Linked DNA regions of Homo sapiens: regions 2, 3, 4 and 5 are each linked to region 1. The links come from fine-mapping of genetic effects on gene expression. A gene starts in region 1. Each other region holds a variant in brackets. All regions are shown on one strand. Distances are between the middles of the regions.

Evidence for each region. PIP is the estimated chance that this variant, and not a neighbour inherited with it, causes the effect.
Region 2: its variant is the best candidate, but not a certain one, in a credible set for the expression of MCPH1 in cerebellar hemisphere (GTEx, PIP 0.60).
Region 3: its variant is the best candidate, but not a certain one, in a credible set for the expression of MCPH1 in prefrontal cortex (ROSMAP, PIP 0.71).
Region 4: its variant is the best candidate, but not a certain one, in a credible set for the expression of MCPH1 in whole blood (INTERVAL, PIP 0.85).
Region 5: its variant is the best candidate, but not a certain one, in a credible set for the expression of MCPH1 in whole blood (TOPMed, PIP 0.80).

The regions. Positions count from the first base shown.
Region 1 is chr8:6,404,011-6,409,222 of GRCh38, forward strand. MCPH1 (microcephalin 1) reads left to right here and starts at 2,617. Exons shown (of 14, transcript NM_024596.5): 1 at 2,617-2,679. The coding sequence starts at 2,658. MCPH1-DT (MCPH1 divergent transcript) reads right to left here and starts at 2,538. Exons shown (of 2, transcript NR_040040.1): 1 at 1,696-2,538; 2 at 1-1,110. RefSeq lists silencers at 2,359-2,438, 2,699-2,878.
Region 2 is chr8:6,459,718-6,464,717 of GRCh38, forward strand. The region is part of intron 9 of MCPH1 (microcephalin 1); the gene reads left to right. Among named protein-coding and RNA genes, the nearest start is that of MCPH1, 56 kb to the left of the region's middle. The variant C/G (reference allele first, on the strand shown) is at 2,099.
Region 3 is chr8:6,631,724-6,636,723 of GRCh38, forward strand. The region is part of intron 13 of MCPH1 (microcephalin 1); the gene reads left to right. The region is part of intron 1 of MCPH1-AS1 (MCPH1 antisense RNA 1); the gene reads right to left. Among named protein-coding and RNA genes, the nearest start is that of MIR8055, 12 kb to the left of the region's middle. The variant T/C (reference allele first, on the strand shown) is at 1,937.
Region 4 is chr8:6,438,943-6,443,942 of GRCh38, forward strand. It overlaps MCPH1 (microcephalin 1), which reads left to right. Exons shown (of 14, transcript NM_024596.5): 6 at 11-154; 7 at 3,125-3,214. Among named protein-coding and RNA genes, the nearest start is that of MCPH1, 35 kb to the left of the region's middle. The variant C/CT (reference allele first, on the strand shown) is at 2,456.
Region 5 is chr8:6,646,581-6,651,792 of GRCh38, forward strand. It overlaps MCPH1 (microcephalin 1), which reads left to right. Exons shown (of 14, transcript NM_024596.5): 14 at 1-1,928. The region is part of intron 1 of MCPH1-AS1 (MCPH1 antisense RNA 1); the gene reads right to left. Among named protein-coding and RNA genes, the nearest start is that of MIR8055, 27 kb to the left of the region's middle. RefSeq lists an enhancer at 1,562-2,761. The variant AAACT/A (reference allele first, on the strand shown) is at 1,906.

The DNA.
Region 1 (5,212 bases):
TGAATTGGGCATGGTCATGTGTACTTGTAGTCCCAGCTACTCAGGAGGTTGAGGTGGGAGGATAGCTTGATCCCAGGAGGGTCGAGGCTTCAAGATGAGCCATGATCACACCATTGCACTTCAGCCTGGGAGACAGAGTGAGATCCTGTCTCAAAAAAAAAAAAAAAAAAAAAAGAAGAAAAAAAGAAAAACAAAATAAAAAAACAAATACTTAGGTTAAAATCTAACAACAGTTATATTTTTTTTTTTTGAGATGGAGTCTCGCTCTGTTGCCCCAGGTGGAGTGCAGTGGCAAGATCTCTGCTCACTGCAAGCTCTGTCTCCCGGGTTCATGCCATTCTCCTGCCTCAGCCTTCCAAGTAGCTGGGGCTACAGGCGCATGCCACCACGCCCGGCTAATTTTTTGTATTTTTAGTAGAGATGGGGTTTCACTGTGTTAGCCAGGATGGTCTCAATCTCCTGACCTTGTGATCGGCCCGCCTTGGCCTCCCAAAGTGGCAGGCGTGAGCCACTGCGTCTGGCCAGAGAAATTTTAAAAGACCTAAATGTTAATGGGTCAGAAGATTCAATATGGTTAAAATGTCAATTCTCCCCAAATTCATCTGTAGAGTCAACACAATCTCAATCAAAATCCCAGCAGTATTTTTTTGTGCAAAATGAGAAGTCGACTCTAAGATTTAAAAGGAAATCTGAAGAATCTAGAAGATACAAAATAACCTTGAAAAATAAAGTTGTAGGACATAAACTATCTGATTTCATCACTTATTTATATAGCTACAATAATCAAAACAGCATGGTGCTGGCAGCAAAAAGACAAATAGCTCAATGGAACACAATAGGAAGCCTAAAATGAAACACATACATATGCAACACAGATTTTGATGTAAGCACAAAGGAAATGCAGTAGAGACAAAAATAACTTTTTAATAAATGATGCTGGAACATTTGGATATGTATACATGCAAAAAAATGAACTTTGGTCCCTATCCCATACCGTATACAAAAATTAATTAAAAGCAGATCTTATCCTTTGAGTCCAGTAGGTTGAGGCTGCAGTGAGCTGTGATTACACCACTGCATTCCAGCCTGGGCAACGGAGTGAGAAACTGCCTGGAGAAAAAAAAAAAAAAAAGTAGAACCTAGACCTGATATACAACCTAAAGCAGTAATATTTCTAGAAGAAATCCTAGGAGAAAATATTTGTGATCGTGGAGATGAAGAATCTATCAAATACTAAACTTTTTTTACCACCTTGACCAAAAGTAATTGGTTTATATACTTCATCATATCATTTAATTCAAAATCTACAGAGATCAATGTCACTTTCTCAGTAAAAGTACGTGAGTCTTCAATGATGCCCTGAACTCACACTCCCAAGTAAACCATAACACCATATTTCCAGAGTAGAGTTTATTAGAACAATAACTGGTGATAATGATAAATATTGATCAAAGACTGAGCCTAGGAAGTGGGTTTTTTGAGGCTGCATATACTCAAGGCAATTCTTCAGAACCACAGAGGGCTCATTGGATCCTATTAAAAGCTGAGAGTGAATGAATAAACAGATAAAACAGAGACCTGAGTAGACGGTAGTCGATATTCTTTTACATGTATTCTACCTCTAGATTCCATAGAAAGAACTAAAAGTACATGAATTTCACTACCAACATCTCCATCAGTTACCAGCTGTATCACCTTGGATCAGTCAGGTAACCTCCCGCGAATCTGGTTGCTTCCGGGGCAGGGGATCCGCGGGCTGCAGGTTTGAGCCTGGTTGCCGGCAGGGTGGAGCAGCTGGAGGGCCAAGCCTTTGAGCTCCAGGGGGGGTGGCCGGGACAGTGGGTAGTGCCAGCCGATCGGCGTCCTGGGGATTGCCTGAATGTGAGGTCTGGGTTCACCCCGCGGTGACCTGAGTCCTGGGATGCCCCTACAGGGATTTGCTGCCTCAGGGATCCGAAGTCTCTTTCATTCCCTTACTGGGGATTTGAGGTCTGGAGGTACTCCTGCGGGGGTCTGAGATCTCGGGGTCACCCTGTGGGGGTCTGAAGCCTCGGGGTCCCCGCGTGGGGTCTGAGGTATCAGAGTCCCCTCCGTTGGGTCTGAGGTCTCGGGGTCCCCCATCCCCGGGATCGGAGGTCCGGCTCCCCGGAGCAGGCAGGGCGGTGCGTCTGGCCCTGAACAGTAACGTGGCGCGCCAGCCCCAGGTGGTGTCGGGCTAGGGGGGCATAACGGTGCCGAAAGTCCGCACAAAGCCGTCCGCTGGGGTCCCGCCGCGTCCGCGAGGGAATGACTGTGCCCCCTCCCCTTCCTGATCCTCAGCTCAGGTGAGCCCAGATGAGGCGCCGGGTAGCTTCTAAGTCACTAATGGAAATAGAAGGCTAATTCAGGGGTTAGGGGCCGTCGTCCTCCTTACTCCCAGGAGAAGAGAAAAACCCACGGCCCAGCAGCCAGAGGCGCGGCGAGGCGGAATCGGGCCCCCTCCCCGGGGGCTCAGCTCCCTCCAGCCTCCCGCCTCACCTACAGAGAAATCCCGGAAACGCGGATTCAGCGGAGCGCGGTGACGGCGGCGCGCTCACCCCGCGCATGCCCAGTGCCCGCGCGCGCCGCCAGGCTCGCAAGCACCGCGTAGGCCAGCTGGCCGGATCCCGCCGTCTGTCATGGCGGCCCCCATCCTGAAAGGTGAGGTACTTCCTGCTGCCTGCTCCAGCAGCGGGAGTTTGAGGACCGGCACCCCTCGTCGCGGGCGCACTCGGGGGATCCCGTGGGAGGAGCCCCGCTCGCCCCTCCCTCGCTGCCTGTCTCCCCCAGACCCCCTGCCGCCTCCTTCCTCCCCCGCTGCCTGTCCCACCAAAACCCCCTGCTCCTGCTCTCTCCCCCGCTGCCTGTCCCCCCAAAACCCCCGGCTGCCTGCTTCGTCTCCCGTGCTCCCTGTCCCCCCAAACCCCCGACTGCCTGCTTCCTCCCCCGTACTGCTTGTGCCCCAACCCCCGTGCTGCTAGTTCCCCTCAATCCCCCGCTGCCTGCTCCCTCCCCCATGCTGCCTGTCCCCCAAATCCCGCCTTTCCCCCTACCTGCTTTCACCCCTGCTGCCTTAGTCCCTGGATCTGGGGCTCACTGGCAGGCAGAGTCCTGCCCTCCGGAAGTTGGTGTGGGGCCCTCCTGGGTCTGGTCCTGTTCGACCCCCTCTGAGGCCCACCTGGAGGAGCGGCAGTTGAGTTTCTATGCTAATTGTTCCAATAATAGGAGCCGCCTTTTACTGCGGAGTCTTTGTGTGCCAGGCGCTGTGCTTAGGCTAGTATGGTATTGTCTGATTTTTTTAACCGCTCTATCAACTCTCTTATATCATTTTACAGGCAGAAACTAAGGCATCGGACGTTTAGGTGACTCTCCCTGTGTGTGGCTAGTCAGTGCTGACAGGGCCTTAGACCGGAGCTGCTGTCCTAACCAGTATATGATACCGCACGCAGTCCCACCCTCTGTGCACCTGGAAGAGCCCAGGAGAGGGGAATAGCGGACACGTGTCTTGTAGAGTTTGACCGTGAGAAAAAAGGGGCCTGTATTGTGGGGCCTGGAGTCATAAAACCTCATAGCCAAAAGTAAAGACTAGAGGCTTTATACAAAGTCTGTAATCAGATGTGGCTATTTTTCTAATGTTAGTATTTTGTTAAATTAACCTGGTTTTCTTTTAGCGTTACCCCCAATCATTGACCAACGGCACACCTGGAAAATGCTTTTAAACATCAGGTTTTGAGAAGAGGATATCCACTAGAACAGGGGTCCACTCACTATGCCCCCCAGGCCATATCTAGCCTGCTGCCTGTTTTTGTAAGGGTCTACGAGCTAAGAATGTCTTTTACATTTTTAAGTGATTTTAAAAAAAGGTCAAATGAAAAATTATATCACATTCACATTTCCTTCTCCATAAATAAAGTTTTATTGGAACACAGGCCGGCCCGTTAATATATTACCTATGGTTATGTTTGTGCCACAACCGTGAAGTTGAGTAGTTGTGGCAAATACTGTATTGGCCACAAAGCCTGAAATATTTACCATCTGTCTCTTTACAGAAAATAGGTTTCTGCACTGGAAAAATTAAGCGTAAGAATTTGGGGAAAGCAACTAATTTTACAAATGTAAACTCTCATGTATTGTATGGGTACAGTTGTTCTTTGCTTAAAATTTTAATAAATTCCACTGAAGCTATTTTGAAAAGGCTTTCAGTAGAAATTTATTTATGAGACAGAGTCTTACTCTCTTGCCCAGGCTGGAGCGCAGTGATGTGATCACATAATAGCTCAAGCAATTCTGCTTCAGCCTCCTGAGTAACTTGGGACTACAGGCACTACCACGCCCGGTTATTTTTATTTTTATTTTTTAATTTATTATTTTTTTGTAGAGCCAGGGTCTCACTATGTTGCCTAGGCTGGTCTTGAATTCCTAGCCTCAAGCAATCCTCCCGCCTCCACCTTGCAAAATGCTGGGATTACAGGCATGAGCTACTTTGTTCAGCCAGTAGAAGAAACTTCATTTACTTTTCTTATTTTTGAGGCAAGGTCTTTCTCTGCTGCCCAGGCTGGAGTGCAATGGTGCGATCATAACTCAGCTTCTACCTCCTGGGCTCTAGGGATTCTCCCACCTCAGCTTCTCCACCCTACCCACCCCCATTTCCCACCCAGTAGCTGGGACTACAGCCACTCGCCACCATTCCTGGCTAATTAAAAACAAAATTTTTTTTAGAGACAGGGTTTCACTATGTTGCCCAGGCTGGTCTCAAACTTCTGTGCCCAAGTGATCCCACTGCCTTGGCCTTCCAGAGTGCTGCAATTACAGCATGAGCCACCACACCTGGCCAGTAGAGTAAATTTTTGTTTTACTTTTTTCTTTTTTTTTTTTTGAAACGGGTCTCGCCCTGTCACCCAGGCTGGAGTGCAATGGCGCAATCTCGGCTCACTGCAACCTCTGCCTCCCGGGTTCAAGTGATTCTCCTGCCTCAGCCTCCCAGTAGCTGGGATTACAGGTGCCCGCCACCATGCTCGGCTAATTTTTTGTATCTTTTAGTAGAGATGGTTTTTCACCATGTTGGCCCGGCTGGTCTCAAACCCCTGACTTCGTGGATCCACCCACTTCCGCCTCCCACAGTGCTGGGATTACAGGCGTGAGCCACTGTGCCGGCCTCGGTTTACTCTTAAATGTAAATAGAACAAAATCTATT
Region 2 (5,000 bases), 56 kb after region 1:
TGACTTTATTTTCTTTTTAGTTTTAAATCTGAAGTAGCACTTGCAGGTAATGTCCTATCTGGGCAGCCCTGCAGACAGGACTGTCAGTCGATGAGAGCTGTCAGTCGTGAGTTCTGAGTAATGTGAAGGTGCCAGGTAGAAGGTACAAAGGCAAGAAAGGTGGGAAGGCCTGGAGCCTGTGCGAAGAGCAGCACGGCCTTGGTGTGGCCCGGGGATGGATGCAGAACCGCGAGAAGAGAGAGGCTGACTTCAGCCACGGCCACGGGCTCTGGGGTTAGACTGCTCTCATCTTTGGTTTTCTGTAGGTTCATTGTGATTGTTGTACCAGGGTATTGTTTTTGTTGTTTATTTACTTGAGAGTCACAGGCCGTCCTGTCTTTGATCTGTTCTGGAAACTTCTCCACTGTGATTTCTTTTGCCTGTTTTCTCACGCCTCCATTGCTGGGAACGCAATCTCGTGTGCTATCCTTTGCTTCTATAGCCCATGTCTCATGATTTTCCTCTATTTCTTTCCTCTTGTATCTCCTTATTTCATTCTGGATGTCTTCTATTGGTTTCTTTTCCATTTCACCTTTGACTCTTTTTAAGTCTATTCTGATGCTAAATCCATATACTGAGTTTTAACATGTATTATTTTTCAGTCCCTGCTATTCCATTTATTTTTTTTAATTATTTTTTGTAGAGATGGGGGTCTCTCCACGTTGGCCAGGCTGGTCTCGAACGCCTGGTCTCAAACAATCCTCCTACCTCGTCCTCCCAGGGTACTGGGATTACAGGCGGGAGCCTTCATGCCCTCTATTTGATTTATAAAAACCATTTCCAGTTCTCTGTCAAAATTATTAATCCTATCTTTTATTTATTTGAACATATTATGCATATTTCTTTTGAAATAACTCCCTTTTCTGGCTCCCCTCAATTTCTGTTTTTCTTATCTGTTGTTTTCAATCATACGTTCCATATCTAATATGCCTGGTTAGTTTGTCTTTATCTTCCTAGCAGGGACTGAGATGATCTGGAGCTGGGGTTCTGTCTCTGTGAGGCTAGCTGTCCCCTGGGAGTGTGGGCTTCTGACTCTGGTTCACCTCCTCTTCCATGGGTTTCTTCTTCCATGACTCACTGACTTAGTAGCTGGGCAACGTCTGCAAATAGCTGGGGCTTGTTTGTTTGTTTGCATCTTGTCCAGCTTTTCTGAGGGCTCACAGTGAGGAGCCTATTTCAAACTACTTAGTCCACCATTCCTGGAGACGATGGGTGAATTTTAACGGCCACTTAACTTTTCTAAATAGAGTTTTGGTGTGAATGCTTCTCTGAGAAGACAGCAGTAAGAGGCCAACTCAAGAGAAATGATTTTTGAGATGAACACGTAGGTCAGTTTGCAAAAGACACACTAAACACCTGAATTGACATTAATTCAGTTTCTCTTAAAGAGTGAAAAAAACCATGATTCCATGAAGAATTATAGAATCTCAGAGCTATAACTTCCATTAGCTTTTTTTTTGGTGTAATGCCCATTTTTAATGGCAAAAATCACTCTATAAATCAGTCAGAAAAAGAGTCTGTTTTTTTTTAGACTTATTTTAAATATACTTGTTTCAAATTTGTTGAGACTTTTTTTTTTTTTTTTTTGAGATGGAGTCTCGCTCTGTTGTCCAGGCTGAAGTGCAGTGGCCCAGTCTTGGCTCACTGCAACCTCCACCCCACCAGGTTCAAGTGATTCTTGTGTCTCAACCTCCTGAGTAGCTGGGATTATAGGTACCTGCCACCATGCCCAGCTAATTTTTCTATTTTTTTTTTTTTTAATTAGTAGAGACAGGGTTTTGCCATGTTGGCCAGGCTGGTTTTGAACTCCTGACCTCAAGTGATGTGCCCGCCTCAGCCTCCCAAAGTGCTGGGATTACAGGCGTGAGCCACCACACCCGGCCTGGTGAGACTTTATTTGGAGGATCCAGTTAAGCAGTTTTATTACCTCTGTAATCTTAGCTTGCAGCATGTAGGTCATTGACATTGATAGTTATACATCTTTTCAGAGGGAGAAATAGAAAATATTATGACGAATTTTGACCTGTTTTCTTTGTTACTTGTTGAATATTGTCAGACA[C/G]AGAACCCAAAGAAGCTATGTATAGATACCAGCACTCTGGTAGAAATACACGAATGTAATTTTTTTTTCTCCAAGTATTTGGTTTATTCTACTACTTCTGGATTTGGTTTTTCAAAATATTGATTATTATCCTCAGGAACATTTTTAATGTGAGTTATCAACAGGATAGCTTTTTGTAAGTGGCTCAGTTGTAGAATCTCATTTTGGAGCCATCTCTGCCAATCCAGCTTGTTGCATGTGAAGGCAAGCTGTGGGTCAGAGCACAGAAATGTTTACAGAGGCTTTCCTAAGCCTGGAGGCCTGGAGAGATGTGAAGGAACAAATAGAGCATACTTATTTTGATAGTGGTTTAAAAAAATTAAAGAATTACACACCACATAGAATGCTTAAATTCCTGAAAGTTTCTCAAATAGGGTGCAAAACAAATAATAGCTTGCATATGCTGATAGTTGCTTGTTCTTACATCTTTGCTAGAATATGAGCCCATAAGGACATAGTCTATATCCTGTTAGTCTCTTAATACTCAGCAGGATATAGCATCACAAACAAAATAAGTGCTCAGTAAATATTTTCTGAGTAAATAAGAGATGCATTAATTTCCCTTTTACTTTTTCAGTGAACATGTTTAAAACATTTTTGGTGCTCTTAACCATCACTCAGTAATGATGGAATCATCATCATGTACTTCACTTATTTTTGAATATTCTTCCAAAACTTGAGAGACTGTCTTCTTTCAGTAAAAGATGGATTCTCTTCTCCAAGGCTGTGCATGGCAGCGCAGTGTTGCTAAAGCATTGCCCCCAGAGCCAGATGCCTGGGTTCAGTCCCATCTCTGTTACTCACCTGCTCTGTGGGTTCCATGGTGTTGAACAAATTACTTAATATCTGTGCCTATACTTCTTTGTGTATAAAACAGGAATAATAATAATAGTACCAGTCTCCTCAAAGGGTTTGTGCTAATTAATTGAGTTGAAACATGCAAAGAGTTTAAGATAGTACCTCATATATAGAAGTGCTCAAAAAATGTTAGCTATTTTCTTCAGCACCAGCTTGGGTGAGGGTCATGTCTGCATATTGACTGTGCTTTGTTCTGCAGCTATAACTTGGAGTAGGTCTCTCTTACCTGCCTCCTCTTTGCCCACTCCCAGAGACCACCATGTGTCTTTAATGAAAATGACCCTCAAAACTCTGGGACAGTCCACACTGTGTTTCTTGTTGGACTTACTGACCACAGGCATGCCAGAGCCAAAATAGAGTCTTGGGCAGGGGGTGAGTATAGGAGTATAGCCTTTTCTAAAAGCTCCTTCAGTGATTCTGAGCTGATGGTCATCCTCCCATTGAGAACCTTTGTTTTGGGGGTGAGATGTAGGCCATTAGCATGAAATTGTGCTCTGTCATCTCCCCCAGGAGGCAGAAGACTGAGTTCTGCGGTCAGAAATGCCCGCTTGGGGGATCTGCTTCCTCAGTTTTCGAGAGATGCTTTCCTCATCTCCAGTATCATTAGAACCTTCCTGAAAGAACTGAGATCTTTGTGAGCTGCGATAGGGTACTCACAGCTGTCATTTATTGAGCATTGTGACCTCTTTTTAGATTGAGTTTTCTATTTCTCAGTCATATGGAAAGCTGAAAAGAAAGTATATTTCAGAGAGCTCTAATCATGTCTTTATTGCGGAGGCAGTAGATTGGGAATTACAGCTCATTTGGGTGTAGCATCCCCAGAGAAGGAGCCTTGCAGTGGAAAGAAGATAAAAGGGTCCCAGTGGTGGGAATAAAAAGAGTACTAGATGCCCAGAGGGTGGGAAAGGCCTAGCCCAGATGCAGTGTGGCCAGGCCAGCTAGGGGCAGGAGGAAAGAGAGCTGCAGGGACACAGATGCCTTCCTGAGCAGAGAAAATAGAATACTTGAGCCAATTTTCATGTAAAATGGATTATTTTCCTGGCGTTTCCTGTCCTTCAAGTAAAAGGTTCTGGAATGAGTACTTCACTGCTGTAATGGAGACACTAATATTTTATGAATGCAGTTTTACAGTTTGCAGTAATGCCAGGCCTTTGGCTGTTTTCCATTAGATGGTGCACTTGGCTGGAAGCATATACTCTTGTAGCTTTGATTTTAAATTTAACTTTCAAGTTGAAAGAGCAGTGACTCATCCAAAGGACAGGTGATATTTATTTATTTTTTCTTGAAAATGCAGCACGGGTATGTTGTTATCACACGTTTAGGGGAATTGCCACACTTCCTCGAGGATGACACCCTTTGTAAATATCCATGTAAATCATTTCCATTGTTCAGACCCGCTGTACGCAGAAAGATAGGCCCTTTAGTGCCGACCAGCCGGCCAGTGAGCTCTGTAAGATCGAAGGTGCCCTTGGTTTCCAACACAGCTGTTTCAGTGATCTGTAATTGCTTTGATAAATCACTTTTGGCAGAGTGTACCCAGAGCTGGCAGTGGCGGGGATGTGCTCGTTGTAACAGGTGTGGGGTCCATCAGCAGATGTTGCTTGATGAAGCCATTTAAAAAACAGCTGCCTCTTGATAGCCTAACAGTTGCTTTCAGCCCCCATTAGCACGTTGTTTTTTTCTTGTTATGTATGAGAGAAAATATTTCTACAGAAAACATTAAATAGGATCTTCAAAGAACTCCATCTTTTTAAAAATGTGTTTTATTTGTTCACTAACTGATTTTGCATGCATTGTAAATGTGTGGTTCAGAAATTGTCAAATGTGTTTTGGACTGGACGTGGTAGAAATGAGGACCAGCCAGGGTGGATCTCCTGTGCCTCAGTGGTCGTCTTTGGCCACGTAAAGGTAGAGGCCACCGACGGAGGACATTTCCCACTGGGAGACCCACAGGCGCTAAGAGAGGAGCTAGCCGAAGAAGTCTATTTAAGATCTGCTGCTTTGG
Region 3 (5,000 bases), 230 kb after region 1:
CTCATGTAATGTTGGGAATGTAAGATATTGTAGCCACGATAGAAAACAGTGTGGCAGTTCATCAAAAAATGAAAAGTAGAATTACTGTATGATCCAACAATTCCTCTTCTGGGTATATGCCAAAAAAATTGAAAGCAGGATCTCAAAAGAATAATTGTACATCCACATTTATAGCAGCATTGTTCACAATAGCCAAAAGGCAGAAGCCCAAGTGTTCATCAGTGGATGCATAAGAAACAAAATGTGGTCTATCCATACAGTGGAATATTATTCACCCTTAAAAAGGAAGGAGATTCTGATACATGTAACACTGTGGATGAACTTTGAAAACATCATGTTAAGTGAAATAAGCCAGAAACCAAAGGACAAATATCATACGACTACACTTATAAGAGGAACTTAGAATAGACAAAGTCACAGAGACAAACTATAGTTGAATTACCAAGGGTGGAGTAGGCAGGAAGGGAGTGGAGAATTATTGTTTAATGGCTACAGAGACTCAGTTTTGGATAATGAGAACATTCTAGAAATTAATAGTAGTGATGGCTGCACAGCATTGCGAATGTACTTCATGCCACTGAAGTGGACACTTAAAAATAGCTAATATGGTAAATTTTATGTTATGTCTATCAAACTTTTAAAGGCACCCTCCACAGATAGTTTTAGTAGTAAGTTTTACCAAACATTATAAAGTTTTACAGGAAAAAAAAAGAAATCTATTCACCTCATTTTACAAGGCTACATTGATCTTGACCTAATACTGGTTTAAAAAACTCATTTGTAAACAAGTACATAAAAATCTGAGGCTGAGCGCAGTGACTCATGCCTGTAATCCCAACACTTTGGAAGGCCGAGGGGGGCGGATCACAAGGTCAGGAGATCGAGACCATCCTGGCTAACACAGTGAAACCCCATCTCTACTAAAAATACAAAAAATTAGCCGGCCGTGGTGGCACGTGCCTGTAGTCCCAGCTACTCGGGAGGCTGAGGCAGGAGAATCACTTAAACCTGGGAGAAAGAGGTTGCAGTGAGCCAAGAGTGCGCCATTGCACTCCAGCCTAGGCAACAGAGTGAGACTCTGTCTAAGAAGAAGAAAAGAAAAAAAAACTCAGAAATAAGATATTTCATCAAGTCAAATTTGGTAGTGTGTTTTTAAAACACACACACACATAACCAAGTGTGGTTTAACCTAAGAATGAAAGGATAAATGAATAGCATTAAGTCTTCTTTTTTCTAATCCATTAATTTTCTTAGTAGTGTTAAAAAGCAGTAGGGAAGATTCAATGCCGAGTAATGATTTAAAAAAAAAAAAAACTCTTCAGAAACCAGGAATAGATAACTTTCTTAACTATGGAGGTTATCTATAAAAAACGTACAACAAATATTGAATGGTGAAAACCTTAGTTTAAGGCTTAAATCATGTACAAGACACACATGAATGCTATTACTCTTCAACAGTGTTCTATGATTCCTAGTCAAGGGAATAAAATAAAAAAAAATTACAAGAATTATACAGGAAGGGACACATTTTGTTTGCATGTCATACAGTTGTCTACATAGAAACATCAAAGAGAGTCAATAAACTGTTACAACTCATTCAGCAAAATTCCTCTTTGTAAGATCCACTCACTGAAATCTTTAGCATTTGTATACCCAATGATAAACAATTATAAAATGTAACAGAAAACATAGTAAATAATAGTGGATTCAAGGCTAGCCATGTAATACAGGTTGAACATTCCTAATTTTAATCTGAAATGCTCCGATATCTTAAACTTTTTGAGTGCCAATCTGTCAACACAAGTGGAAAATTCCACACCTGACCTCATGTGACAGGGCATAGTCAAAGCACAGGTGCACGACACAGTTGATTTAGCGTCCCCAAGGGAAAAAAAAGACCCACCCAGCCCCCTTCAACTATAGTATAACTTTTCCA[T/C]GCACACCCAAATTCCCCCACACAAGCACGCCCACAATGTGTAATAAAATGGCACGTGTGCAGGCTGGACGCACCCAACGCAGATTCCCCACGATACCTCACGTGGGGCCGAGAACTCCATGCATTACTCACTGTGGTTTTTTGCTTATTCTCTGCAGTGTCATGTAAAAATATTACTGAAAATGTCGAAAAGGCCTGCAGATCCCCCTATGTGTAACAGTGATCAGAAAAAGAGGAATAATTTATGTTTATCAATAGCACAAACAGTCAACTTGTTGGAGGAACTGAACAGCAGTATAAGTGTGAAGCGTCTTACAGAAGAGTATGGTGTTGGGATGACCACCATACATGACCTGAAGAAACAGAAGGATACGCTTTTGAAGTTCTATGCTGAATGTGATGAGCAGAAGTTAATGAAAAATAGAAAAACTCTACGTAAAGCTAAAAATGAAGATGTGAATAGTGTATTGAAAAACTAGATCTGAAGGCATCACACTGAACCCGTGCCACTCAGTGGTAGGCTGATCATGAAACAAGCGAAGATCTATCCTGATGAACTGAAAATTGAAGGGAACTGTGAATATTCAACAGGCTGGTTGCAGAAATTTAAGAAATGACATGGAATTCAAGTTTTAAAGCATCTGCAGATCACAAGGCAGCGTCGAAACTCATTGACGAGTTTGCCAAGATTATCGCTAATGAAAATCTGATGCCAGAACAAGTCTGTATTGCTGATGAGACATGACCATTTGGGTGCTACTGCCCCAGAAAGATGCTGACTACAGCTGACGGGACAGCCCCTACAGGAATTAAGGATGCCAAGGACAGAATGACTGTGCAGTGCTGTGCAAATGCAGCAGGCACGCATAAGTGTAAACCTGCTCTCATGGGCAAAAGCTTTTGTCCGTGCTGTTTTCAAAGAGTAAATTTCTTACCAGTCCATTATTATGCTAACAAAAAGGCATAGATCACCAGGGACATCTTTTCTGATCGGTTTTACAAACACTTCGTACAGGCCTCTTGTGCTCGCTGCAGAAAAGTTGGACCGGATGATGACAGCAAGATTTTCTTATGCCTTGACTACTGTTCTGCTCATCCTCCAGCTGAAATTCTCATCAAAGATAATATTGATGCTGTGTACTTTCCCCCAAACGTGACTTCATTAGTTGAGCCTGTAACCAGGGTATCTTTAGATCAATGAAAAGTAAATATAAAAACACTGTCTTGAATTGCACGCTCGCAGCAGTGAACGGAGGTGTAGGTGTAGAAGATTTTCAGGAGCTGAGCATGAAGGATGCCATACATGCTGTTGCCAACGCTTGCAACACAGTGACTAAAGACACAGATGTGCGTGCCTGGCGTGACCTCTGGCCTACGACTGTGTTCAGTGATGATGATGAACCAGGTGGTGGTTTAGAAGAATTCAGCTTGTCAAGTGAGAAGAAAAGGATGTCTGACCTCCAAAAAATATACCTTCAGAGTTCATCAGTCAGCGGGAAGAAGTACACATTAATGTCATTTTTAACATTGATAATGAGGCTCCGGTTGTTCATTTCATTGACTGTTGGGGAAATAGCCAGAATGGTTCTGAATCAAGGTGATCGTGATGATACCGACCATGAAGATGACGTTAACACTGCAGAAAAAGCACCCGTGGACAGCGTGGAGCTCAGGTGTGATGGGTTAACTGAGGCCCAGAGCAGCGTGCATTCACAACAGAACAAGCAATCATGTCAGCTTATAAAATCAAAGAAAGAATCCTAAGACAAAAAAGAAAGAAAAAAAATTAGCCGGGCATGGTGACACGTGACTATAGTCCCAGCTGTGTGGGAGGCTGAGGTAAGAGTCTTGCCTGAGCCCAGGAGTTAGAGGCTGCAGTGAGCCGTGATCATGCCACTGCACACCAGCCTGGGAAACAGCGAGGCCCTGTCTCAAAAAAACCCAAAAAACTAAGTAAATATTTTGTACATGAAACAAACTTTGTGTACACTGAACCAACAGAAAGGAGCTGTCGGTTCTAAGACCATTGTTAGTGGTGCAGATACCATTAAAAAGCCCCCCAGCAGAATGCCTCCTCGTCCCCAGAGGACCCACTTCCTGGGCCTGTAACTGCTTCTTATGTTCCTTCTCACCTAAAATGTAAAATGCCGTGTCCCGTAAGCTTTGAATCAAAGCACAGCATGGTTGGGAGAGCAGAGGCCTGCTGTTGTTTGTTGTTGCTGCTGTTGTTCAGCAGCTGATTGCGGTCTCTGCTGATGCCACTGGCTGCTTAGCTCCCCTGAGCACGTAAGTCTTCACTGTGTTAATGGCATGTCTTATTTTTTACTGTGAAGTACTTATGTGTGAATAAGTGTAAGGAAATGACTGCTTGGTAGTAGCATATAAATTCAGAGTCACGGGCAGGCACGGTGGCTCACGCCTGTAATCCCAGCACTTTGGGAGGCCAAGGCGGGCAGATCACTTGAGGCCAGGAGTTCAACACCAGCCTGGCCAACATGGCAAAACCCCATCTCTACTAAAAATTACAAAAATTAGCCGGGCGTGATGGCACATGCATGTAGTCCCAGCTACTTGGGAGGCTGAGGCAGGGGAATCGCTTGAGCCTGGGAGGTAGAGATTGCAGTGAGCCAAGATTTCACCACTGCACTCCAGCCTGTGTGACAGAGAGACTGTCTCAAAAAAAAAAAAAAAAAAGTCACAGTCAGGAATGAGGGTGATGCCACACAACCACTGATTGTCCACATGGGGGTGAGGGCTGAGATAGTGATACCTCTGCTTTCTGATGGTTCCATGTACACAGACTTTGTTTCATGCACAAAATTTGTTTGTTTATTTTTTGAAACAGAGTTTGGCTCTGTTGCCCAGGCTGGTGTACAGTGCTGCGATCATAGCTCATTGCAGCCTCTAACTCCTGGCCTCAAGCGATCTTCCCACCTCAGCCTCCGTTGTAGCTGGGACTACAGTCATGCTGTCGCACCTGGCAATCACACCAGTCTATGCACAGAACTATTTAAAATACTGTATAAAATTACCTCTAGGCTATGTGTATAAGATGCAGATGAAA
Region 4 (5,000 bases), 35 kb after region 1:
TTATTTTCAGATGATGATGTACCTATTCTCTTATTTGAATCTAATGGTTCATTAATATATACTCCCACAATTGAAATTAATAGTAGGCACCACAGCGCAATGGAGAAGAGATTACAAGAGATGAAGGAGAAAAGGGAAAATCTTTCCCCCACCTGTAAGTAATTAGTTTGTAAAATGAAAATTATGCAAATAGCCGATTCAATTATGGTGGAAAGCTTCTTTTTTCTTTGCCTAGATATTTTAATGTTTCCTGGTAGTAACACATTTTGACTTATTTCATGGCTGGCTTTGTTTTCCAGAAAATCTTATGCATCATTAAGATTTTTGAAGCATATGTTGGGTGTATAGTATTCTTCAAGTTTAAAATCCTATTTGTTGTAGCTCCTTTGTAATTTCTATTATCTTTGGAATTTTTTCTTTCTTTTTTTTTAAAAAAAAATGAATCATGTCTTTTTTTTTTTTTCTGAGATGGAGTTTTGCATTTGTCACCCAGGCTGGAGTGCAGTGGCGCGATCTGGGCTCACTGCAACCTCCCTAGTTCAAGTGATTCTACTGCCTCAGCCTCCCGAGTAGCTGGGATTACAGGCGCCTGTCACCACTCCTGGCTAATTTTTTTTTGTTTTTTTGTATTTTTAGTAGAGACGGGGTTTCACCATGTTGGCCATGCTGGTCTTAAACTCTTAACCTCAGGTGATACACCCGCCTCGGCCTCCCAAACGGCTGGGACTGTAATCCAGGCGTGAGCCACCGCTCCTGGCCGTGAATCATGTCTTTTGAAGGAATTTGCTTTAGATTAATGTATCTAAGGAATCAGTTTGTTTTTCATTATTTCTTTTATCTTTAAAATTTTTAATTACTGAAGTGTAATTCACATTTTAATAAAACATTTATCAAAGTAGCTAATAGTAAAAGTTCATCTTGATACCCATCTAATTGTACTCTTCTACCTGGGGGTAACCTGTATTTTAAGTTTAAGTGTTTTTCCAGATCTGTTTCAGTGTATCAGATATCTGTGTATACATGAAAAAGATACGGGTTTGGTTTCTGTGTGGAGGTGTAATTTCTGTTTTACCTAAATTAGATAATGACATATGTATTATTATCCGCTTTATTTACTTAAGAGTATCCTGGAGGGTTTGTTTGCAGCTTAGTTGTTGTAGACCTATTTTTGTTTTAAGATGCTCAAAGTAGTCTACAGTTTTGATATTGAAAATCTATTGGTGGGTATTTTTTTCCCAGTTATTAGAAATTGTGTTGCAGTTTTTATTCTTTTTTTAACCATATGGTTTGGTTGTTCTTGTTTTTTTGTTAAGCCATTTTCCTTTCTCTAGACATAAGTCTTTCCAGCTTCCCACCCCGACTTTTTACTGTTATAACCCCTGCATGTGCCTACGTGAATCCTTGTATTTCTGAGTACTTCGTGTATTTCAATAATACTAATTCATACATGCAGAATTTGATTTTTTAAAGACATAGAGTCTCCCTGTGTTGCGCAGGCAGGACATGCACTCCTGGGCTCAAGTACTTCTGCCTCACCCTCTCAAGTAGCTAGGAATACAGGTGTGTGCCACGATCCCTGGCTTATTGATAGATATAGTCAAATTATCCTTCAAAAAATTTGAGTCATCTTATTGTCACCAGTTGTTTATAAGAATGCCCCTTTCTCCATACTTGGAAAACTGAATGGCATTAGCCTGTAGCCTTTTTCAGTCGGAAGCTTGAAAAACTGGATCTGTTCTTGAAGTTACTTTTGATTAGAAGCAGGTTTAAGTGCCTTTTCATATTACTGACTGACTTACCGAATGCAGCTTTTAATGTGATCAACTATTACCTCGCTTAATTTTATGTCCTTTGTCCATATGTATCAGTTAAGGTTAGTTTCGGCTGCATATAACAAAGACAAAAACCAATGTGTTACAATCGATAGAATTGCCTTTCTCTGTCTTGCCTAGTTCAGAAGTAGGCAGCCAGGGCTGGGATGCCATTCCATGGTGTCTTTAAGAAACTAGGTTCCCATCTTTCTGTTGTACCTGCCTGGCTTTTCTTGCAAAATGTGTGTGCCTCCCAGCTAAGCCATCTCCTTTTGACAGCCTTACCAGACGTCTATCCAATATTCCTGTCTAATTCCATTGGCTGGAATGTGGTCATATGGCCACCCCTTTTGCAAGCAAGACTGAAATGTAGTCTTGACTGGGATGCATTGCTGTCCTGATAAAATCAAAGTTCTGTTGTTAAGAAGAAGTGAGAATGGACATTGAGGTAGATAACTAGCTGTGTCCCAGGTGGACATCCAAATTGTTTCAGTGTGCAATTATGTGTATAAACTAATTTGCCTTAAACTTTACTTTTTCTATTACTTGGCAGTGTTAATTCTGCTACTTTACTGCGTCCAGTACAGTTTAAAACTTAACTGAAAATTTTATGTGTGCTTCCCTTCCTTATCTTGGTTTATTCT[C/CT]TTTTTTTGCTGAAGTTTTCTCAGAAAAGTATCCTTTTGAGTCTCTAAAAAATATCTTTGGATATAAGATCCAAACATTTCTTTTGTTTCTTGACTATTGTATGAACCGCCTTTGAAGATAATACTTACGATCTTATTTGTTAAGTCATTGACATCCTAAGTGTTTTCTATGAAACCTCTAGGATTTCTCAACCCAGCACAGCTGACATTTGGGTCTGGGTAATTCTTTGTTGGGGGCACTGCCCTGTGTGTGGTAGGAAGCTCAGCAGCATCCCTGCCTCTCCCCACTAACACTAGCAGTGTACCTACTGCTCTCCCTCACTGGCGATATCCAAAAATGTGTCCAGACATTACCAAATATCTGCTGGGACCCCAACGTCACCTCTGGTTGGGAAGCAGTGCTCTAGTTTTAGAGGTAACTATGATGAGCATCCTTGAAGAAAAATCCATGATTATCAAATAAGAAGACTAGAACAGACTGGAAATGTTCACTTAATTCTGTTGAGCTTCTGATTAGATTCAGGCAAGTTGACTTTAAGATCCCTTCTAACTTTGTGATTATAGGATTTAATAGAATCACCTATGATTAATAGGAGGACTTCCTGCTGGCTTCATCTGCTAAGAAATACTGAAACTTTATCTAATGCAGTGTCTTGGTCCTGTTTTTAGCTTCCCAAATGATTCAGCAGTCTCATGATAATCCAAGTAACTCTCTGTGTGAAGCACCTTTGAACATTTCACGTGATACTTTGTGTTCAGGTAAAATTTTTATTTTCCTTTCTGTGATATGTTTAAGTTTTGAGAATAATATGATTTTCTGATTTAGAATTTCATGTAGCAACTTCTGATGAGTAAAATAATTAGTTAAAACTAGAACTTCTAAATTTCCCCCTGAAATTAGGTATTATAATAAAATTAAGGCATGAGTTAAACTTCCTTTTTGGTTCCTATAGGTTTTTTTTCCTAGGCATTTGCTTTCTTGCTACAGAATCCATTGCTCTATTTAAAAAATTATTGTGAACGTATATGAACTAATCTGTATGCAGTTTAAACTACATAGAACTGAGGTCAGAGCTAAGGAAATGTTGTTTCACACAATGTATAATTAACACAAGGAACCTGTTATTGAACGGGGTCAGTGAAGTATGTAAAGATCGTCAATTGAGGAGATAAATAGAGGATTTCTAATTAGAAGCAGAAAGAACACTGGTAGGAATTAGTGCAGTTAGTTCCATGTTACGCACATACATGTTTGTAATGTGGGAGCCCTAGTTCCACTTAGGATGGTAATTTTTCATGGTCATATCTTCTTCGTACCAAATTTCTTACAGTTTCTTCACCTAGTCCCCAGTGGGGCTCAAGTAAGTAGCAGTGATCCCTGAAAGTACTATGTTCAAAAGTGCTTGAGATGTTATGGAAAATTTATCATGAAAGCCACAGCAATGACAAAGCGCAAGATGGCATCAAGATATTAGAAGTTTCAAACAAAGCCTCCTTTCAGCGCAGGGTTAATCCTTGTACTCTCACCTCTGTGTGCTGGAATTATTTACCCATTTCTCTTAAACAGTCTCCATCTTTTTATTTTACACTTGTTACATTTATTTCCTAGAAGTTGGAAACAAGTGATAATAATAGCTAACATTGATTTCATTTTTGTTGTTGTAGGCACTCCTCTAAGTGTCTTATTCACTGTTATCTCATTTATTCTCCCATTAGCCTTAAGAGGTAGGTTCCATCACCATCCCATTTTGCCAGTGAAAAACCAGGACACAGAGGTCAAACAGCTTGTCCAAGGTCATGTGGTTTGTGAATGGCAAACCCAAGCTTCTAACTTAGGCAGTCTGACATCACAGATTACACTCTTAGTGACATGTCACATTGCTTATCGGGTTTTTGAAAAGTGTGATAAAACATAAAACAATTTTAGGTGCTGAATAAGATATATTGAGCATCTAAAATTAAAAGTGACCTTATTTCCAACTACTGCCTTGAAGACACCTGGGGCACAGTTGGAAGGGAAGCTTTGGTGGTTACCTGTGTTCTTCCTTTTTAAAGTAGAACTTCAGTGATTTCAGACAGAGAGTTCTAACACTTACGTGACCTCCAGATTGAGTGATTTCTACAAAACACAGGCCCTCCACCAGCAAGTGCTGAGCCCCTATTGAGGGAGCCAGCACGGGACTAGAGACTTCTTCATATTCATTCCAGTAGCTTATAGCACAGTGACGGGCAGATGCCCACGTAACCATGGGGCAGTATGATGCATGATGGTGTGTAGCAGAGGGGGCAAGGCCAGGGAGAGCTGGCAAGGGCAGTGGGAGGGTCCCAGGGATGTTGACAACCCAGGTGGGTTTGGAAGGATGAATTGTATTTACCCAGAATAAAGTGTGGAGGAAAGGGGAAGGCCCAGAGGGTACAGAGGAGTATAGAATATTTAGGAGGTAGCAGCAGCTTAGCATTACTCTCAGGAAATGAGTAATCCATATAAGAGTTGAAACATTAAAGCCTACCAAATGGCTCACTTTTGAATATCAGTGTAATACGA
Region 5 (5,212 bases), 240 kb after region 1:
AAAAATTAGCTCAACGTGGACTATATCAGGGTTTCTCAACATCAGCAGTGTTGGCGTTTGCTGGGGTGGATAATTCTTTCCTGTGGAGAGCTGTCCTGTGCACTGTAGAATGTTTAGCTGCATCCTGGCCTCTGCCTATTAGATGCCAGTGGCATCCCTCCCCTGACACACACCTAGTTTTGACAATCTCTGTCTCCAGATATTCCCAAATGTGCCCTGGAGAGCAAAACTGTTTCCAGTTGAGAACCATTGACCTAATGTAAAAAATAAAATGTACAGAAGAAAGCATAGCAGGAAATCATTCTGACCTCAGGTTAGGCAAAGCTTTCTTAGATATGACACTAAAGGCATAATTCATTAAAAAAATAAGTTGGGCTTTGTCAAAATTTTAAGTTTTGCTCTTCTGAAGAAACCATTAAAAAAAAATGAAAAGACAAGCCACAGACTATGAAAAAATACTTGCAAATCATATATCTGATAAAGGACTTGTACCCAGACCATGTAAAGAACTCATAACTCATTAATAAAAGGATAAAGAAAAAGCTGAAGACAATTCATGCAAGAAGATATACAAATATTAAGCACATTAAAATGCTCAATATTATTAGTCACTAGGGAAATACAAATTAAAGGCCCAATGAAATACCTATTACACACCCATTAGAATGACTGTAAACAACAAGACTGATAATTCCAACATCTGACCAAGATATGGAGAAACTAGAACTCTCCTACATTGCTGGCATGAGTGCAAAATGATACAGCCACTTTGAAACACCATTTGGCAGTTGCTTAAAAAATTGAACATTCAACTACCATATGACCCAGCAATTTCACTCTCAGGTATATAACCAAAATACATGAAAACATGGATCTGCACAAGGTCTTGTATACAAATGTTCATAGCAACATTATTCATAATAACCAAAAATTAGCCCATCAACTGAAAAGTAGATAAACAAAATGTATATCCACACCATGGAACGCTACTCAGCAAACTTCTAAAAAGCAACAAACTACTAAACACGTGCAACAACATGAATGAGCCTCAGAAACATAAGTGAAAGAGGTCAGACACAAAAGACTACAAATTGTAAGATTCCATTTAGATACCATTTCTACAAACCGCAAAACTGTAGAGGCACGAAACAGATTCATGGTCTGCTGCAGCTGGGGATGGGAGTGGGAACAGAGAGCAAACATTTTGGGATGATGGAAACATTCTAAAACTGGATTGTGATTTTGGTTACACAACTGTATACATTTACTAAAATCAATGAACAGAACACTTTTAATGGGTAAGCCTTAAGGCATGTGAATTATACACCAATAAAGCTATTTTTTTTAAAAAAAAGAGAGAGAGAGAACGAGAGCTACATGGCAGCCCCAGGGCAATAGCTCTCAGATCTCCCTTAGAGAAAGAACTTTCTCTTCCACAGCAATGAGTGCAGGTAGCTAACACTGACCAACCTGCATCTGGTAGTTCATTTAAGGTCGGCCTTGGCTTTCAAGTTAAGGCCATGGTCTTTCTCTGCAGTCCCCAGCCAATACGTGGGCACAGAAAGGCACAGGGCATGGCTGATTCAGCCCAACATGAGGCTCCACACCCTAGAACTCCCTGTGGAGTTGGCCGATACTGCCTGTGACCTGCAATGTGGTCTAAGCTGTCAGACCTCCACAGTGGCCAGAAGGTTTTCCATACCTGAGCCTGCTTCTACCCACTTTTATTTTTCCCAGGAGTCACGCTTAGTCATCTCTTGCTCTTTGAACTCCATGTCTGTATCAGCTACCCAGAGGACCCATCAGACAGAAAGTAATATGCAGATAACAGCCCAGGGGAATCTGGGCAGCACTGTGAAACCAACATTTCTTCAGTGAAACCTAGAACAAAAGTGGAATAAATAA[AAACT/A]AACTGTCTCATTTCAGCACTGGCAGTCTCACTCTGGAATCTGTGTTCATGCTACCCAGGCCTATACTACAAGCTCGTTCAGCCATAACAGGGCAACTGTGAGGCTGTTGGATGGGATGATGTTGGAAGTAAATGCTCAGTGCTGCCAAGTGAAAATAGCACTCAGGCAGAAGTCTTCTCACCAAGGCAATTTACTTTTATAGAAGGGTGCATCTCGCGGATGGAACAATGGCGAGAGCACACTGGACAAGGGAGGGGAAGGGGGCCTTATTTCTAATGCAGCTAGCCCTACTGCTATATCTTTCCCCCACTGACTAGGGTTGGACCGCACAGTCTAAGCTAATTCCAATTGGCTATTTTAAAGACAGCAGAGGTACAAGCCACACTGGCAGGACAGTTACAGAACAGGTGACTAAGGATGACTAAGGACAGAACAGGTGACTAAGGATGACGAAGGACAGAACAGGTGATTAAGGACAGAGCAAGTGACTAAGGTTGACTAAGGACAGAGCAGGTGACTAAGGACAGAACAGGTGACTAAGGATGACTAAGGACAGAACAGGTGAGTAAGGACAGAACAGGTGACTAAGGATGACTAAGGATAGAACAGGTGACTAAGGGTGACTAAGGATAGAACAGGTGACTAAGGGTGACTAAGTACAGAGCGGGTGACTAAGTACAGACCAGGTGACTAAGAATGACTAAGGACAGAGCAGGTGACTAAGTACAGAACAGGTGACTAAGGGTGACTAAGTACAGAGTGGGTGACTAAGTACAGAGCAGGTGACTAAGGATGACTAAGGACAGAGCAGATGACTAAGTACAGAACAGGTGACTAAGTACAGAACAGGTGACTGAGGATGAATAAGGACAGAACAGGTGACTAAGGGTGACTAAGGACAGAGCAGGTGACTAAGGACAGGTGACTACGGATGACTAAGGACAGAACAGGAGACTATGGATGACTAAGGACAGAGCAGGTGACTAAGGACAGAACAGTGACTATGGATGACTAAGGACAGAACAGGTGACTACGTATGACTTAGGACAGAACAGGTGACTAAGGACAGAACAGGTGACTAAGGACAGAGCAGGTGATAGAGGCTAGGAGCGGGCTGTTTACTGAAACTAGGGGTAAAGAGATGTAAAGAATGAGAAAGTTAAACTTTAAAATGGAGAACAAAGAACAGGGAAGCTGAATATACTGACACATTGGTTCTTTGGAGAGGAACTCAGAACTCAGCGTACTTAACAATTTTCTCCCTCTTGAATTTTAAAAGACATTAACAGGCTAAACTTCGAAGAGGAATTTATTGTTTCCTACAGATGACAATTAATAATCAATCTTGCAATGTTTACTGAGGTCACTATCCTCAGTGCTATACGTGTTCTGTGTCCCATAGACTTCAGGGTAACTACATGGTCCTTAAACTTACAATCTAAAGTATTTCCATGAGACCTTCCTTAATAGACGTTTGTTCTCAGCCTTCTTTCAATAGCAACATCCTTTGTTCACATGAGGATGCATAAAGAAATACAATACGTAAAAACATGTTATCAGGACCGCTCTCATTAAGCTGGGTAGGGGGTGGTCACACGAGGGTTTCAGATCCTCACCCAAGGATCTCATCTTTCTCTGCACAAGGGTAGGCTGCACAGCGCCTTTGTAGATACTTCCGAGATTGCTTGAAAACTGCCGGTCTGGCCCAGTCCCTCCTATCACTGACAAAGAAGCTGAGATCTCGAAAGACACGCCACCCATGAGCAGTAACTCAGTGCAAAGAATCTAAATACCAGAACTCCTGACCCACAAGGCTTTCTCTGTGCATCCAAGATGTCCCAAACTGAAATGGTCTATGCACGACAGAGAACTTTGATCACACTCAGAAAACGTCTTTGAAAATGAAACATGGCACATTGCAGAGATGTCACAAATGAGACTTCCCTTGATGGTCCCTGAGAGCGTCTTTGTGTTCCATGTAGCTGCTCCCATTATTTTGGGCAGACATTGACAGTCTTTGATGAAACATTTTTCACCTTGAGTTACAGTAAATGTTATCATCTCATGTTTTTGGAAATGCCATTCAAGGACTTGAGAGATCATTTCTAGATAATTGTTTATAACCATGCCCCTTATAATTTCATTTGAGATTATATGAGAAAAATCTAAGCATACCTATTTAATAAAGGATTTGGACAACTGCATCTCAAACTTTAATACAAATTCAAATCACCTGGGGATATTGTTAACTGGCAGATTCTACTTCAGCACATCTGGGGCCAGAAAGGCTGCGTTTCTCTCCCCTCCCCTCCCCTCCCCTCCTCTCCCCTCTCCTCTCCTCTCCTCCTTCCTTCTCTCTCTCCTCCTTCCTTCTGTCTCTTCTCTGTCTTCTCTCTCTCTTCTTTCTTTCAAGATGGGTCTCCCTCTGTCACCCGGCTGGAGTACAGTGGCACACTCATGGCTCACTGCAAAGGCTGGATTCTAACAAGCTATCCGGTGATGTGGATGCAGTTTCAGAAGCAGGGAGTTAGAATACGCAATGGGATATTATAAATGTACATTTCATTTACTTCTGCACAAGATGTAATGTCTTGTTAAACCAAACTGCTATTTTTTTTTTTTTGAGACAGAGTCTCACTCTGTCACCCAAGATGGAGTGCAGTGGCCCAATATCGGCTCACTGCAACCTCCGCCTCCCGGGTTCACGCCATTCTCTTGCCTCATGAGGTCAGGAGATTGAGACCAAATTGCTATTTCTTACAGTGTTGCAAATACCTTGTGAGATTCTTATCAAGGTATTGGAGAATAACTAGGGCACTGATTATGAGAACATCAGAATTGTCAGAGGCGTCCTAACTAGGGTGACTCCATCCTGAATAAAGCCTGGATAGAGCCAAACCTGATGGGGGACATTCCCTGAGGGATGATCACTCTCAGTCACAGGATGTTTATAGTTGAGGGAACGAGTTAATGATGCTGACTACCTACCTAAAGAACCAGAACTTACAGAAATGTCCCAGTATTTGAAGAACAAACAGCATTGTTAGTTTAAGAACAGGGTTCGTTTTAGAGATAACAGCACATTCATAAATTCTTGCTGAAATCAATAGTTGCACAAGAAAATAACAGTATTAATAGCCTGTCGTAAGCTGATCACAAATCTTTGTAATATATTACACTCTTCTAAGCCAACAAAGATCAAAACAGACAAAGAAGGGCATTACATAATGGTAAAGGGATCAATTCAACAAGAAGAGCTAACTATCCTAAATATATATGCACCCAATACAAGGGCACCCAGA